Linked DNA regions of Homo sapiens: region 2 is linked to region 1. Evidence: fine-mapped expression QTL. A gene starts in region 1. The other region holds a variant in brackets. All regions are shown on one strand. Distances are from middle to middle. Region 1 holds the start of PDE6H (phosphodiesterase 6H). Region 2 has its middle 11 kb from the start of LINC01489.

What was found. PIP is the estimated chance that this variant, and not a neighbour inherited with it, causes the effect.
Region 2: its variant is the best candidate, but not a certain one, in a credible set for the expression of PDE6H in whole blood (TwinsUK, PIP 0.83).

The regions. Positions count from the first base shown.
Region 1 is chr12:14,971,018-14,976,401 of GRCh38, forward strand. It overlaps PDE6H (phosphodiesterase 6H), which reads left to right and starts at 2,025. Exons shown (of 4, transcript NM_006205.3): 1 at 2,025-2,069.
Region 2 is chr12:15,009,947-15,015,330 of GRCh38, forward strand. No RefSeq gene overlaps it. Among named protein-coding and RNA genes, the nearest start is that of LINC01489, 11 kb to the left of the region's middle. The variant GAC/G (reference allele first, on the strand shown) is at 2,128.

The DNA of each region.
Region 1 (5,384 bases):
GATTTTTAGCTGTACTTAGCAAGAGGCATGAGAGGAAATGTGTCTACTTTACTTGGTCCAAAACAAGAAGGAACATAGATTTTTAAGACTGTAGAGTAATTTAAGAATTTTCTAATTCTAAACCCCTGAGAACCATATTAGAGTGGCTTTAGGAGAATTTTTCAAACTATACACCTAGACTTTCTCCACACTCCTAATCTCTCCCTCTTCTCTCTCCTGGATTTCCTTTGGAGGAAGAAGACTTATGGCACAACCACCCCCATATTCAAAAATTGAGAATCTGAGAATTGCAAGATTATCTTTCTCAAGTGTACTGGGATGGAAAAAAATTGAGAACCCCAACACTCTAAATCATTCATTTTACATATGAGGAAACTGAGACTCAGAGAGGTGACATATAGCAGATAAGTGGTAAACCCAAGCTTGCATATGGGTCTAGAACAGTACTTTTCAAACATTAATATGCAAACACATCACCTTGGACCTTGTTAAAAAGCAGATTCTGATTCGGTAAGTATGGAGCAGGGCTGAAATCCTGCATTTTTAACAAGTGCACAGATGGTGTTGCTGCTGCTGCACTTTGAGTAACAACATTCTAGAACATTCACTCAGCTTTTGGCACTTTCCACTGTCCTTAAAATTTGTATTCTTTCATCAAGAAAATGGAGAATATGTAAAAGTTTGACAGATAAGCATCTGAACATTAACGTGCCTGGTATGTAATAGTAAAGGAAGATGTGAATGGTAATGGAGATACAGAGGAGGGAGCAGAGGGACTCATCCAGAGACCAAACACTTTCCTGGCTTTGCAAGGTAATCATTGCTTTCAAAACTCAGAGGAATTTTGGTAAAGACCAGTGGAGAGCATATGAATGACTCTCAAGCTGTCTAGTTGCTCATGTAATCTGCTTAGGGCTGCAGGTTAAGAACCTCTCCCTGTCTAGAAAGGATAAATTGACCTTCTTTCTCTGTAATGTTATGGAGTGTAATTTTCTAATAGGTAACAACTGGGGAAAGAACATTGAAATTCACTGGCAAGGCATGGAAGTGACCAGCAAACAGACATCTTGGTCTCTGTCTGCTTTGATGTAGTGCAGCACAAAGACAATTGAATATGCAAGGTACTTCCAGATTTGGGCCCTGTTCCTGGCTCCACTATTAATTTTATTTGCAGTCTTGAATAGGTCACTTAATCTTTCTATGATAAATTTATCAAAAGAGCTTACTGATAACTACCATATGGGTTGAGATCTATTTAAAATACAAAAAGTATTAATCTATTAATAATTAATACTAGTGGATCAATAAAATAGGAAGACTGAGTCAAGGAGTCTCAGTAAATTGGATTGTACCCTAGACCCTACACCCTGAAACATTTAGGTACGGAAGATCCAGCAATCGATTCTCAAATAAGTGTCCTCAGTTAACAATTCCTAGCTGTCATTTGGGCCCTTTCTGTGTCAGATATCAGTTTTGACTCTGAGGTTCCATCTCTCTGAGGAAATTCGCACAATACCAGTTAGGGAGACATACTGTGTGTTTCCCAATGTCACTGCCCGCATGTTCAATGTCCCTGTATAGCAGGAGGCACTGTGGCTCCCTCTCTTCTCTCCAGTTATCTAGAGCCCCATAAGAATTATGTCACTGTGTATATGTGTGTGTGTGATTGCGCACATAGGTGTGTGTTTGTCAGAGAAAGGGAAGAAATGGGGGTATTGAAATCTAAAGGTAAGAATAAAAAAAAGACAGAAGATATTGAATCACAAACTGAAATTTACCCTTGGATATCAACACTTTTTGTGTTTTTGTGAATACAATACCTATTTATTGACTGGAATGAACCCAAGTCAGTTTTGAAAGGGCCTCTAATTATTGGAAAACTCCTAAGCCTGTCCCAGCATCAACCCATGTTCTCCTAACTTCTTTGCACCTGGGTTGCTGTTCTGAGCTTATGACGGTGAGATTAGGCAGCATGAGGGTATTACAGAGAGATAAGTCAGGATGCAAAGATCCTTTTGTCTTTTGCAAAGAAGGCAGCTGGGCAGCTGATAGGAACAACATTCAGCTCCGTGAGTACTTCTGAACTTCTGGTGAATTTGAGCAGGATAATTGAAGGGCTTTGGGGGGTTGATCAGGTTCCAAAAGAAAAATTGCAGAAGAAAACATGTTGGACCTGTGGGCCTGGGCTGTGGCTGGGGATGAAAATGGGAAAGAACATGAAGGAGATACATGCAGACCTTCTTGTTATGCCATGGGACAAGCAAATAAGTGAAACTTGATTATTACAAGGTCACTGCAAAACTTGATTACTGAATTCATTTAGAAGGAGCCCAATAGTGACCTCCCTGTTTGCAGCTTCATAGTAAACAGTTTTCTGAAGAAGGAGGAATCTGTGGCACTAAATAACCACAGAGAAAACAGTTCTTTACTCCCAGGATGTGCCTGCAAACTTGGCCCAGGATGGTGTGAGTGTGAGGAAAAGGAGAAGGGGAGCTGAGAGCATGAGAATGACCACAGGGCAGGGCAGGTGGCTGAGCCTTCTCCCTTTGAGGTCAAGTGTTTGTTCCATTCTGAAGCAGGGTGCTGGCTGGAATTTTGGTAATTTTTTTTTTATGGCTTTGGTTTGGGTCTTGCTTTGCTTTTCAAATTATTGATTTTCTCTGCCTCAGCAGGACCCTGGGTGATATTTATGGGCTCAACCCCAGCAGTACTTCCCTTCCCAGCTCCTTCCTGCCTCTTTCTTTGTCCACCAACAATGGACTGGTCTACCTGTCTATAGCTTTGCTGAGAAAAAGAGAACTGGAAGTGTAAGGTGATAACAGCAGCATCAGAGAGCTGTCTCAGGAACCTCCTAAAACTGCTTTTCAGAGGATCATCCTCTGTCACTATATAGAGCTGGGCTTTGCTGTATAAAGAAACAGAAGATGATTTTTTGCTTTATACAAATCTTTAACTTTGTTAAGTTGACCCTAATCCCAGTCCCCTAAAAAAGTATGCCTTGAAATATTACTTTGCTGCATCCACTTATTTCTGCAGAAAAACAGTTTGTAATCTTCAAAAGGGGAAGGGCTAACATTGCTTTAAATACAGGAAAATGTTCTGGCTCACAAAAGAATAAATTGCCTAATGCTTTTGGAGGAAAAAATATGAAACTTCTTTCAGCTAAAATCAAGTCTGATAATACATTTAAGGTTACTCAGCTCCAGATGCCCTTAGAATTTCTAGAAAGGTGTGGTCAGCATGAGGTTAGCCTTTGGTGATGTTTATGGACAACAGGACTGGCTTCCAATGCAGGAAAAGGTCAGAGGTGTTCTACCCTTCCTAAAGGTTTTGCAGAGAGAATTGGAGGGTAAATCTATGACAGAAACTGCATAGGGATTAGTCGACTGTTCCGGTTACCTAGTGCAAATCCTGAGCACCATTAGGATCAAGGGATTAACCTGGCAACTGTTATGTAACTCTTTCTGAGGAGGCTTCTTTCATATAATGCATCATACTCAGACATGAACACTTTCTAAGCCTAGAGGTGTAACTTCAAAATTATGTAAAAATGCAAAAGAAACTTGCAAGAAAAAAGGGGATGTATCATTGGGGAATATGGATGTCACGTGTGATTTTTAAATTCTTCGGGGTTGCTGTTGGGGTGTCAAAGGAATTCAAGGAAAGCTTCTTAAGACAGAATTTTAAGACCAGAAATAAGTTAACAGTCGGGGTGTTTGAAGGAAGCAGAGAATTACCCAGCGAGGGCAGATGATAATTGCCCCTCTGGTGTATGGCAAGGGCCCTTCAGCAGTTGGCCCAGAGGAAGGAGGTGCAGAGTCCAGGTGAACAAGTGTCATAACCACAGATTTGTTTGCATGGCTTTCTTTTCTCTCAGAAGGTCTAGCATATATTTGCCCTTTTTGAACACTTTGTACCACTCTACTTATATTGTCTTCCTAAAATTTCCCCATAACTCTAAAAGGAAGGTCTTGTTTGATTCATTTTATAGATGGAATAAGACCCACAGAGGATTATGAAATTTATCCTAAGTCACGTAGCCAGTTCTGTGGAGTAGGAACTTAAAACTATATCAGTTTGATTCTAAAGAGTGTACTCTCTACCGTGTTACCATCAAAGGACAATTTGACAAATGAGGGTCACTTTAGGCCCTTACATTATAGAACTCTGGATCCAACTCAATTGGATCTTATTAGGGCTGCCAGATAAAAATGAAGGATGCCAGTTCAATTTGAATTCCAGAAAAAAAATGACTTTTTAAAGTATAAATATGTACCATGAAACAGCTGAGATATACTTTACTAAAAAAAATTATTTCTTTGTAATTCAAATTGAACTGGGTGTCTTGTAATTTTTTTTTTTTTGGCTTAATCTGGCAATTCTAACCCTAATAGATTCTTTAGATGAGAGAAAAGAAACTTTTTGATTTCTTCTACCTTGAAAATCCTGGGCAGTTCAAAAACCTTGATCTGAGAGCAATTCTCTAGCTGCCCTCTGTGACTCTGGCAGGGCTGGGATGTGTCAGTTACTGGTGGTCCACTCTGAGCACAGCGCAGATCTTGGCTGCTCACCAGCTATTCCCAGGGTCCCAACCACACTTGGGACAGACACAAGGTTTGCCTGTCTACCGGGGGTAGAGAGGGCCCACAGAACGGGAACTGAATTTAGTGAGCAGAGGAACTGGCAGTGCATTTCCTAAAGCCTGAAAGCTAATGACTTCTCTGTGCTCTGATGGAGAAGTCAAAGGGTCAGGATCTCATGACCAAGGTTTACAGTATTTGTTCAATTTCTTTTGTTTTTTTTTTTTGTTTTTTTTTTTTGGAGACGGGGTCTTGCCCTGTCGCCCAGGCTGGAGTGCAGTGGCACAATCTCAGCTCACTGCAAACTCCACCTCCTGGGTTCACACCATTCTCCTGCCTCAGCCTCCCAAGTAGCTGGGACTACAGGTGCCCGCCACCACACCTGGCTAATCTTTTGTATTTTTAGTAGAGATGGGGTTTCACCGTGTTAGCCAGGATGGTCTTGATCTCCTGACCTCGTGATCCGCCCGCCTCGGCCTCCCAAAGTGCTGGGATTACAGGCGTGAGCCACCGTGCCTGGCCTGTTCAATTTCTAAATTAATTTATTAACTCATTTGACAAATATAATATATATGGCATGATTACTGTACACCATGCACTGTTGTAGGTTCTGAGACTGGAAGGACAGCCTCATGAAGCTAGTCCAGTAGGGGATAAAGGAAGGAATCACAGCATGAGCAGGTGGTCCAGGGTCCTGGCCAATCTCACCATCCCTGGTACTGGCAAGGGTAATAATTTAGTAATAATCAGAATTTAAATAAGAGAAAAATCTTGGAGGCGAGGATAATAATTGCAACCCAATTG
Region 2 (5,384 bases), 39 kb after region 1:
ATTTTAAGAGAAGTTGTATGGTTCCATGTGGCTAGAATTACTACATCTTCTATTTTGCCATAGTTTTAGCCTTACTTTATAGCTGATTGGAAAAGTCCAGTGACTTCCTTAGGTCTGACTCTATCTCTAAAAAGCCATGCTGACAGATGCCCATTTTACTTGATACAAGATGGAGTATTACCATTGGTCAGGTGAATTCATCAACTTCACTAATCATCTTCCTAAAGAGCAGACAGTATTAAGCATGTCTTGAAAAAAAAACTGCCAAAAAGAAGAACAGAAAGCAAATTGAGCATCGGGAAAAGACTTGGGTCTATAGCGTCAGACAAAACTAAGTTCAATATATACTTAAATAATAATGAGTCTACTAGGTAGACTCATCTAATAGTGCTGCCATGTACTAGTTTACTAATCATAGGATTGTTACTCATGCTCTCTCAGCAGCAGTTTCAGGGTAATTAAATCTACATCAAAGGTTATTTTTAGGATTAAAGAAAGACACAGTCGATATTCAAAAAACATCTACATTAATAACGATAATAATACAGCTGCAAAAAAAGAGTAAGAGGGCTGCAAAAAGAGATGGCATCTAAAATACATTTCTATCTTTACATATTTTTGAAGAAATTTGATCCCATACTCTGAATTCAAGGTGGCGGATGGTGGACTACCTTTGGATGCTGAAACAAGATGTCAGTATTCACTGAGGTGGCAAACCCCCCAGACTCCTCATCCCCTGTAAGCTGTGATTCAGCAGACCTTCATCCTAGCTGTGGCAAAGTGTGGTGTTGAGCCTGCCAGTTCCTGGACCAGGCCTAGCTTTGCCCTCACATGGCACAGATCCCACACTCTGGCCCTCTCTTTTCCCACAACAATTTTGATTTGTAGGCAGGATAATCATAAAAGTTCAAAGGAAATGAGAAATTGCTACTTAGAAGAATAAGATGATGTGTGGAAGGTAGAAAATTTCTAAGTAGCCATCCAACCCAGCTGGGTAGGATCTGACCGTCAGGTTGGTTGGTTGGTTTTTTACCACCAGATGTTAGGTCAGCTTCTTGCTCAGTGCCTCTCAGTCACTTATCTTAGTCCCTGGCTTCCAAACTAGAGGACCTGGGTCATCATTGGAATTTGCCATAGCTTAGGTCTGGGCCTGGCTAAGTCCACAAAAATCTAGTACAGCATCAGAGAAACTTCTGCTAAATAGTTATTCCACACCCAGTTTTGGTTTCTGTAGTTCAGGTCTCTGGTCTTCTGTTATAGGCTCCTTGGTAGATCTCTTGCCTCTCCTGTTCTTGGCCACACATGAAGAACACCACCATCACCACTAGCCTAGCCCACAGGCTCTGGCCCTGACATTGGCTTGTGCTTTAGAGTGCTCAGGCCATGCTGTCTTTTTAACAAATGTTCACTAGGGGCAGTACTCTGAAAGGTTTAAAGCCACTGTGTACATTTCTACTAGGTAGACTCATCTAATCTCTAAATAGTAATTTATTACAAAGGCAACTTGCATACTTTCACATGAAGTTCTTATTTGATTATGTTAATTAGACTTTCAGGACAAAACAGGTCACAATACTTATTTCACACTCACCAGGTCTAGAATATTTTACTGGGATCTGTGGGAAGGTAAAATAGATGTAGCTTCTGCTTTGTGGAGGTCAAAATTGTACTTTATTTTTCTTGAATACCCCTCCCTCAACCTTCCATTTTGAAAACAATCAAGAAAAATGTCCTGTCACATAGTTCTCTCTACTCCCTTTATCTTTCTTTGAAATATCGACTATTCTTCTGCTAACAGCAAAATATTTTCCAAGCATAACAATAAATTTTTCCTTGCCAAAGGAAAACAAGGCCAACCATTGGAAGAGACCCCAAGACTAAGTTACAGCTAATATAGCACCGAACCCCTCTTTTCTCAGCGTGATCTTTAAGTTTTGGACTTTGAATGAAAGACCAAGGGGAAATTGTTTTATGTTTTATATACTACACTAGTTATATGTTTCATATATAACTACTGGTCCGGATAGCATGTTATCTAAGAAAAAGAACTTCTATCACCTTTAAATACTTGAAAATAATTTCCAGCTGTCTCTCTTCCTCTGATAGTCATAAACACAGACACACACA[GAC/G]ACACACACACACACACACACACACACACACACACAGAGAGAGAGAGAGAGAGAGAGCGAGAGACAGAGAGACAGAGAGACAGAAAGAGAGAGCTTTACCACAATTGATTATGGAAAAAATCACAATTGATTATGGAAAGAAGAAATGCTAGGAGAGCTCAGGCCCATTTATCTCAGTAGATGAACAAGATTGTAACTGCTATTATGTCCTCAGAACTTCATATAGTTCTGGTCCTGCAGTACTAAAAGGAAGGAAAAGAAGTGATGTAAGTACACGTAATGTTCTTGTTAACATAAAAAAGCAGTAAGAGAGAAAAGATAAAAATATAGTGCCTCAGCAGCTGGAAAGTGCCCAAGTGGAGTGTAGAAAAGTGTCCAGTGAAAAACAAGGGACCAGAAAGTAAATGAAGAGGGGTGCTTGGATTCAGCTAAGTGGGACAGAAAGGATTTCTTTAGGTTGAGAGAATTGGAGTTGGAAAGTAAGAAGTCTAAGGAAAATGTTCTTTCAAAAAACATGTTAGAATTAAGTGATTATAACTCACTCAAAATATCACAAATATATGTCATGAACATGGAAGTGGTTGGGAGGACAAAGGGTCAAAGGACTTCTTTGTTCTTTGAGTGGGTCCCACATGATTGAAGAGGAGGAACCAAGAACAGAATTGATGATGTTACAGATGGAAGGAAGGAAGTTTGTAGCTGAGAGCAAATTGTTCTTTGTCCTTGAGATAAAATGAAAATTTGCTCTACTGGTTAAAAATTTACATGACACACATCCCAGAATGAATGTAAAAATGTTTTTGACAGAAGGAATGGAATTAGAAGGTCCACGACTCCAATTGAACTAGATAGAGCAGATCAGGCGTCTCACATTTGCACTCACATCTCTGACATGTGTTACCCACCATGGGATACTACATCAAAAATATTTAGTGTATTTTATTCTTAAGTCTGTTTTCCACACATAATGATCTTATGTTATTGCTTGGGACACATTTGCTCCGAGCTCACGTCTCGAAGCAGGAGTCCCATTGTGGGGCATACTCATACCAAACCTTCAGTGATTCTGAGAAGAACTCTGTGCTCACGTTCTCTTTTCTGCCTTCCTCTCACAGCAAGTCTTAGTTATATTGCCACAAAGCAGTTTACGTGACTTTACTGTGTCAAGAATGATCAGTTAACACACTCAAAGTAGGCTATTGTCTCTGTGACCTGACTAATGGGCCCACCCCACACTTTCGTACATGCCAGTTTGAAACCTACTATCTTCTTCAACCACCATGATGATAGAAAGTCTTGGCATTGGTTACTCCTTTCGGGAAATGCTGGTAATAAACATTGTAGGATGGATTATTGTTCTAAGCCAAGGTTTCTCAACCTTGACATTGGAGGCACTATCGACATTAGGCACGAAGTATTTCTACTTAGTATTTGGGGGGCTGTCCTGTGCATTGCAGGATGGCAGCCAGCATCTCTGGCTTCCACCCAATATGTGCCAGTAGCATAAAATGTCTCCAGACACTGCCAAATGTCCCCCAGGGAGAAAAACTGCCCTGATTGAGAACCACTGCAGTAAACTATTATCTCCCATCAGCTCCTTATAAATTGAACTTGCAGCAGTCTAGCAAGGCATTGAGAGAACGAGAGGTGTCTGAAGCTCAGGAAAATCTGCAGCTCAGAGAGCATCAGAAAATGGCTAGAAAGGGTAGGTCTGAACTGACTGTCACAGGGCAGGGACTTTCAGAGAGTCACAAGGAGATTGGATGAGGAAAAGACAGACAGGGATGAGGGGCATAAAGAAAGGCAACTGAAAAGAAGAAGAAATATTGAGAGCAATATGGCCTTCACTATAGGGCTTTCCTAGAAAACCAGAGGGGGAATCCATAACGGGCAGTCAGAAAACCAAGGTTCTGGTTTCAATTTCACTCTCCTGTTAGTTTTTAGATCACTTATGCTTGGTTTCCTTACCTATAAAACGTGGCTATGTTTCCAGACCTGATTATCTCAGATTGCTATATTAAGGCAATAATGGGAACATTCTCTGTAGATGTGTTTATAAAAGCGTCAAGAATTGCTATTTTTGTGCAGTTGTGCCTCACATATAAGTCAGATGGCTGAGAGGAAGTAACTCAAAATTACTGGGGGCCTGAGGATAGAGAGTCTGCTCGTGGCCAGAGTGGCCTCATGCAGTTTGTTGAAAACCCAGGTCATGCTTCCTCACCTAACCCTGGATGCCTGGGCATCAGGAGCAGTTATGAGGGGTATCCAGGAGTATAAAGTAATATCTGAGTAGATGGGAGAGTGAAATTCAACTGTTAGCATTTTTCATACCAAGGAATTTTTATTAATCTCAATTTACACTTGTGGGGTTTCCAAAAGTGGAGATCTCAGTAAATCTTAGCAATAGGCCATGGTATAGTCTGTACTGCTTGAGTTCTACGGTGGAAAGGAGAATACCTGCCTACCAAAAACTTAGAAAAATATTTTAGGTAAACTGGATACAGAATAATTATGGATTTTTTTTCTCATATTCCATATGGAGAGCTGATAAAATCATCCTCAAAGCATTTTTCTTTTAAATTTAAGACTCAGGTTATCTAGCAAACAAGATGGAAACAAGTGAAAATACCAGTTTGGAAACTAAAGCAAAAAGATCCTTTGGAAATTCCTAAAACTGTTTTGAGGATCAGTTCAAGTTTGAAAGAAAGATTTAGTGCTTATTTTTTTCAACTCTTATAAAAATGACTAAACACATTCGTCCTCTGAAGTAGACTCCAGACTTTTGCACCTGGCCAAAAGGAAGAAACACTTCAGCTCAGATCAACCCAGTTTTTACTGGAATACTTGCGGCAGAACTGAGAAGTGCAGGTATAAGCACAATGACTGGATTATTCCCATCTTCTGCTTATTTAAGAAGTTAGGCATTATTCTTTCTCATTTGCAGACTTTCTGTTTACTAAACTACAAATAAAAGTGTGCAGAGATATGCTTCAGGTTTCCTATTTCTGAAATGCTGTTGGAGATTGCAATTGTACTAAGTTGGAAATTGAGAACTTAATTATTTTAAAATCTAGTCAAGTGAGAGGGAACTATCAACTGCAGAGATACCAGAGTTTTTTGACATTGTTCCTGGCCTTTGGGGATGAAGTCTAACACTCCCCTTTTACAGTTCTCCCTCTCTTCATTCCCTAAAACCAGAGAGCTGAACCTATTTGCAAAACATTGTTACTTCAGGCATCTCATGGGGGATGATTA